Linked DNA regions of Homo sapiens: region 2 is linked to region 1. A link means that fine-mapping ties the variant in region 1 to the expression of a gene that starts in the linked region. Tissue or cell type: monocytes. Region 1 holds a variant in brackets; the other region holds the start of a gene. All regions are shown on one strand. Distances are from middle to middle.

The links. PIP is the estimated chance that this variant, and not a neighbour inherited with it, causes the effect.
Region 2: SPHK1 starts here. The variant in region 1 is fine-mapped to the expression of SPHK1 in monocytes (TOPMed, PIP 0.91).

Annotation. Positions count from the first base shown.
Region 1 is chr17:76,410,449-76,413,283 of GRCh38, forward strand. The region is part of intron 1 of UBE2O (ubiquitin conjugating enzyme E2 O); the gene reads right to left. Among named protein-coding and RNA genes, the nearest start is that of SPHK1, 27 kb to the left of the region's middle. The variant T/C (reference allele first, on the strand shown) is at 1,516.
Region 2 is chr17:76,383,398-76,385,897 of GRCh38, forward strand. SPHK1 (sphingosine kinase 1) reads left to right here and starts at 1,212. Exons shown (of 6, transcript NM_001142601.2): 1 at 1,212-1,409; 2 at 2,054-2,257. The coding sequence starts at 2,248. RefSeq lists silencers at 1-139, 160-299, 880-1,579.

The sequences.
Region 1 (2,835 bases):
GAAGAATGGCGTGGCCAACGCACCCGCAGTGCCACAGCTGAGAAGCCCTGAAGGTGCTCTGGAGACGCAGGTGCTGAGACCCGAACAATGGCAGAGAAGGTGGGTCTGCGGACCAGCCTCTGGATACATCAAGTAGGAAAGCAATCAAATGGTAAGTGAGGGGTCAGGGACAATGCCAGGGCAGAGGGCAACGTGGCAGGAGGCTGGGCACTTCTGTTGTGCCCCATTTGAGCTCCCCGAAGCTATGCTGGGGGCCACTCAGAGCAGGCATTCAGGAGCCGGGGAAGCTCACCGGGGGCCTCTCCTGCCAGGAGCACTCTCCCTCCACGGCTGCCTGACTCCCAAGGCACATGCTGCTTCTCTGAGCTGCAGTCTTGAGGCTGACCCCCAATAACACAGCAAAAGCAACTAGCTCGTCCTGCAGCTCCTGGTCCAGACTCTCATTCATAACACTGACCTTGACTGACCAGGTGGAATCCAAATTCACTGTATAAAGTGATCCAGGAATAGAAAACACAAACTGAGGCTGATCAACATGTTGAAAATACAAAGACGCTAAATAAAGAAGCTACTTTTTTTTGGTGTGGTGGGGGAGGGGGTGGGTGGGAAGAACAGAGTTTCACTCTGTCGCCCAGGCTGGAGTGCAATCATGGCTCCATCTTCCAGGTAATACTCCCACCTGTCTCCTGAATAGCTGGGACTACAGGCGTACGCCACCATGCTTGGCTAATTTTTGTAATTTTTTGTAGAGAAAGGGTTTTGCCATGTTACCCAGGCTGGTCTCAAATTCCTGGGCTGAAGCAATCCTCCTGCCACCAAAGTGTTGGGATTACAGGTGTGAGCCGCTCCACCTGGCCAAGAAGCTACTTTCAAGTGATTTTGATTGTCATGTCCCTGTAGGAGCGGATGGCTCCTAAAGGCTGGGCTGCTCCTGGAGGCCATGCCCTTGCCCCAAGGGAAAAGGCGGCTTTGTGCCTGGCCACTAGCACCAGCATTTGAACACTAAATGGGCTCCCAGTTCAAAAAGGGGAGCTGGAAGAAGTCCAAAAGCAGGGGCCTGCATGGAGCCTAAGCACTTACAGCTCAAGGCTGGAAGCCACCAGCCATGCCACAGTCATCTCCAGGTGTCAGACACCAGGGAAGGCCAAACAGGACGAGACATGGGTGCTCTCTTTTAATCCCGGGGTAAAAGGCAACCCCACCGCTTCTGGAGGTTAGTGATGTAATCAATACCAGATTTTTTCTTTTTTTTCTTGAGACAGGGTCTCACTCTGCCACCCAGGTTGGAGGGCAGTGGCGCAAGCAGGGTTCACTGCAGCCTCAACCACCTGGGCTCAAGTAATCCTTCTGCCTCAGCCTCCTGAGTAGCTGGGACTACAGGCACATGCCACCACCCGGCTAATTTTATTTTTTTTGTAGAGACTGGGTTTTACCATGTTGCCCAGGCTGTTCTTGAACTCCTGAGCTCAAGTGATCCTCTTGCCTCAGCCTCCCAAAGTGCTGGGATTACAGGCG[T/C]GAGCCACTGTGCCTGGCCCCAATACTAGGTTTTCAGCTCACAGCTTGCAGTAGTCTCAAACAGAAAAGGTCCAGCATCATGCCAAGTGCCCGCTGAGGCTTCACAGACAGCCTGGGACCTCAAGGACAAGCGGACGACCAGCCCCACACTAGGTCCCTGGTGAGTGTGTAGACAACAGGTCAGCTTGCAATGGCTCCTGGATTTGTGTTCAAAGAGTGAGGCTTTCCCTTTGTAGGACTAAGCCAGACCCTAGACCTCTGAAGGTCCAGCAGCCACACACAGGACTGAAGCTGTTGACCTAGGCCAGGACTCAAAGACCAGATTCCTAAAAGGAAGATGAGGTTAGACCAGCACTGGAAACTTCTAAATTCCAACTTGATACTTCCCAAAGAGTAAAAACAATCTGAGAAACGCCACTCCTCCACCCCCTCCCTGACCCCCCATCTCTTATTGTCTGAGCTGGGTCTGAGTCCTAGGTGTATAGAAAAAGAGTGAACTTGACAGTGGCCAACTGGGGGTGTGGGAGAGACAGAGCTTCCAATTGTGCTGGGGACCTCAGGGGCTCCTAACCAGCCTCTCTCCCTCCCCTCCTGTCTCAGCTGAGGCCTCTCTGGCTCTTTGGTTGTCCCTGAGCTTGAAGGGTCTAGCTCCACGCTGCCATGTGCCCACTCCACTGCCAGCACAGGTGTGGCGCCACTATAGTTCAAGACAGGGGTCACGTGTGTTAGTGCATATATATTTTTCAAACTAAGAAAACCAACTCGGCCGGGCGCAGTGGCTCAAGCCTGTAATCCCAGTGCTTTGGAAGGCTGAGGCAGACAGATCACAAGGTCAGGAGTTCGAGACCAGCCTGGCCAACACGGTGAAACCCCGTCTCTATTAAAAATACAAAAATTACCTGGGCGTGGTGGTGGGCACCTGTAATCCCAGCTACTTGGGAGGCTGAGGCAGGAGAATCGTTTGAACCCGGGAGGCGGAGGTTGCAGTGAGCCGAGATTGCGCCATTGCACTCCAGCCTAGGTGACTGGAAGACAGGGCAAGACTCTGTCTCAAAAACAAAACAAAACAAAATGAAACAAAAAAACCCAACTCAGTTTTGCGGGGGTGGAAGCAGGAAACCTTGCTGAGGCCTAGGATCCCACTTTTTTAGTGATTCCTATATATTCAAGGCTAGACAAGAATACAAACATAAAATAAGGTACACATATGGTCTTTAAAGATTTTGCAAGAATCTGACGTAGGGATGGGGTGGAGGAAGTAAGGACCAGTGACATTCACCCCCATCCCACAATGTTAATGCAGCTTGATGGCCTGAGAAG
Region 2 (2,500 bases), 27 kb before region 1:
GCCGAGCTGCCTGGGTCCTCCGGAAGAGAAGACACCGCGGAGGCGTGCCGGAGTTCAGGGCGCCGCCCGGCTAATTGGCTGCGTGCTCCTCCTGGACCTGCCTCTTCTCGACTTTAAGAAGCGATGAGAGAGGTGTGTGGGGGCGGGTGGGGCCGGCGGGGGCGCGCGAGCCCCGCAGCCTCCCGCAGGGGCTTGGTTTCTCCTAACTCTGGCCCTACCTGGGCAGGTCACCAATGGGCCTTGGCAACTTCTTCCTCCGTCTCCGCCGTAACCCCCCAGGGATCTAACTCGAGGTGCTCGCGGACACGTTCTGTGGCTTGCCGCGATAAGTGTATCACAAACACACTGACAAACGCGTCCCTACTGGCCTCCAAAGAAGTGACAACTTCTGAGCGCGTTTCCGGCGCCCCTTCTTCACGCTGAGCCAGAGGGGGCGGGGGGCACGTACCACATGCTTGGCTTTCCAATCCCGACGGGGGCCCCCAGGCCCATCTACACTGTCAAGCCTCCTCTCCGGCTCGGAGCCCCCGGCCTGTCGCCTGCTCTACCCGGGACAGCGCGCTAGGCGGCCTCAGGCTCGGTAGCCCAGCTGCAGCGTCGGGAAGTTAAAAATAACCTCCGTGGGAGCGCGGGGGAGGAAGAAAGAGGGAAGCTGGTGGGCGGCGGGCGAGACGCCCCGGCCTGGAGAGGCGCCCCGGGTGGCGTGCGGGCCTCGAATTTCGGGTGGGCTAGGGCAGAGCGCGCAAAAGGGGCGCTGCATCCCGGCGCCGACAGCACCCGCGGGGGCGAGGTCGTGGCGTCGAGGTGAAACCAAGGGTCCCCCGGGAGAGCGGAGCCGCGCGCGCCCGGCGCTCGCTCCGACACGAGTTCGCGCGGAGCCCGCGCCTCCGTCTGCGCTGCGCGGTCGCTTTCGCGCGCCCCAGACACTGCGCTCGCGGCCGGGCCCGGGACTCCGCGCCTCGCGGCCTGCCGCCTCAGCTCACCCGGCCAGGTCGCGGCGCCGCCTTCTAGCCAGACGCCTAGGACGAGCGGCGGGGGCGCGCTTGCCGCTTCCTAGGACCCGGGCGGGAACCAGCTCGTGGCCCGGCCGTGGGCGCGGGCCGTGCCGGAGGCGGCGCGCTGAGGCCGGAGGCGGGCAGAGGCCGAGGCCGCGCCGGGCTCAGGTTCCACCCCCGGGAGCGCGGGGCGGAGCCAGGCCGGCGCCGAGGCTCAGTGCCCTCCCCGCTCCGCGGCGCCGGCTGCGAAGTTGAGCGAAAAGTTTGAGGCCGGAGGGAGCGAGGCCGGGGAGTCCGCTCCAGCGGGGCGCTCCAGTCCCTCAGACGTGGGCTGAGCTTGGGACGAGCTGCGTTCCGCCCCAGGCCACTGTAGGGAACGGCGGTGGCGCCTCCCCAGCAAACCGGACCGACTGGGTAGGGCCGCCCACCCTGCCTTCGCGCCGCTCGTGGCTCCTGTGCGGCCCGCCCTCGCGGGGCCCCGGGAACTGGGCCACTTGTCGCTTGGGCGAGAGCAGGCGGCAGCTGGTGGCCCGGTTCGGGCTTGGCTTTGGCGCGACCCGGGAGCGGCTCCCACGAGCGCCGCGCGCGTCGCAACGGAGCGGGGCCCTGAGAAGCGCGCGCCGCGGCTCCCACCGCTCTGGAGCTCCGGGCAGGGGACACGGCAACCTGGATGGCTGGGGCAGGGATCCTCTCCCAGAACTTCGTGCCCAGCAATGTCCGCTCAAGTTCTGGGATTTTTACGCAGCTGGACTCCCCTCCCCCTGGCAGCCCCGAGGGGTGAGGAGCTAGTCCGTCGGAGGGAGCCACGGGGCTCTGACTCATCCGTCGGGCCGGAACCGAACCCCAAGCCCCAGGGAGAAAGCCCCGGAGCAGGCGCCCTTCTCAGGGATTGTAGGCTTAGTCACACGGCGGGGGCGCCCTCGGAGGCACCGGACCTCAGCTCTCTGGACTTCCCGGGAACCTGGCTCCCCGCGCGTGGTCCCGGGATTTAGTCGGGCGCTCCCCACCTCTGGCAGCTGCGGCCCCGGACTCCGCCAGCGCTGTCTTCTCTCCCTCAGGTCCAGCCGCCGCAGGGAATGACGCCGGTGCTCCTGCAGCCACGGCTCCGGGCGGGGAAGGCGAGCCCCACAGCCGGCCCTGCGACGCCCGCCTGGGCAGCACCGATAAGGAGCTGAAGGCAGGAGCCGCCGCCACGGGCAGCGCCCCCACAGCGCCAGGGACCCCCTGGCAGCGGGAGCCGCGGGTCGAGGTTATGGATCCAGGTTTGTGGGGTTCCTGCTGGGAAGGGCTGTAGGGGGATTCCTGTTCCTCGCCAGGAATGATGGAACGCCCAGCTGGACGAAAGGGGCTGTGGACGATCGGGAGAAACATTATCCCTCACGAGGCCAGAAGCCGGCCGAATCTGAGCCAAGGAAGGGGGTGGCAGGGGCGCCGCGTCCCCACCCCAGGTCTCCCAGCAAAGGCCGCTCCTCTGGCCAGGGTCAATTACCGGGGTGTTTCGGGCA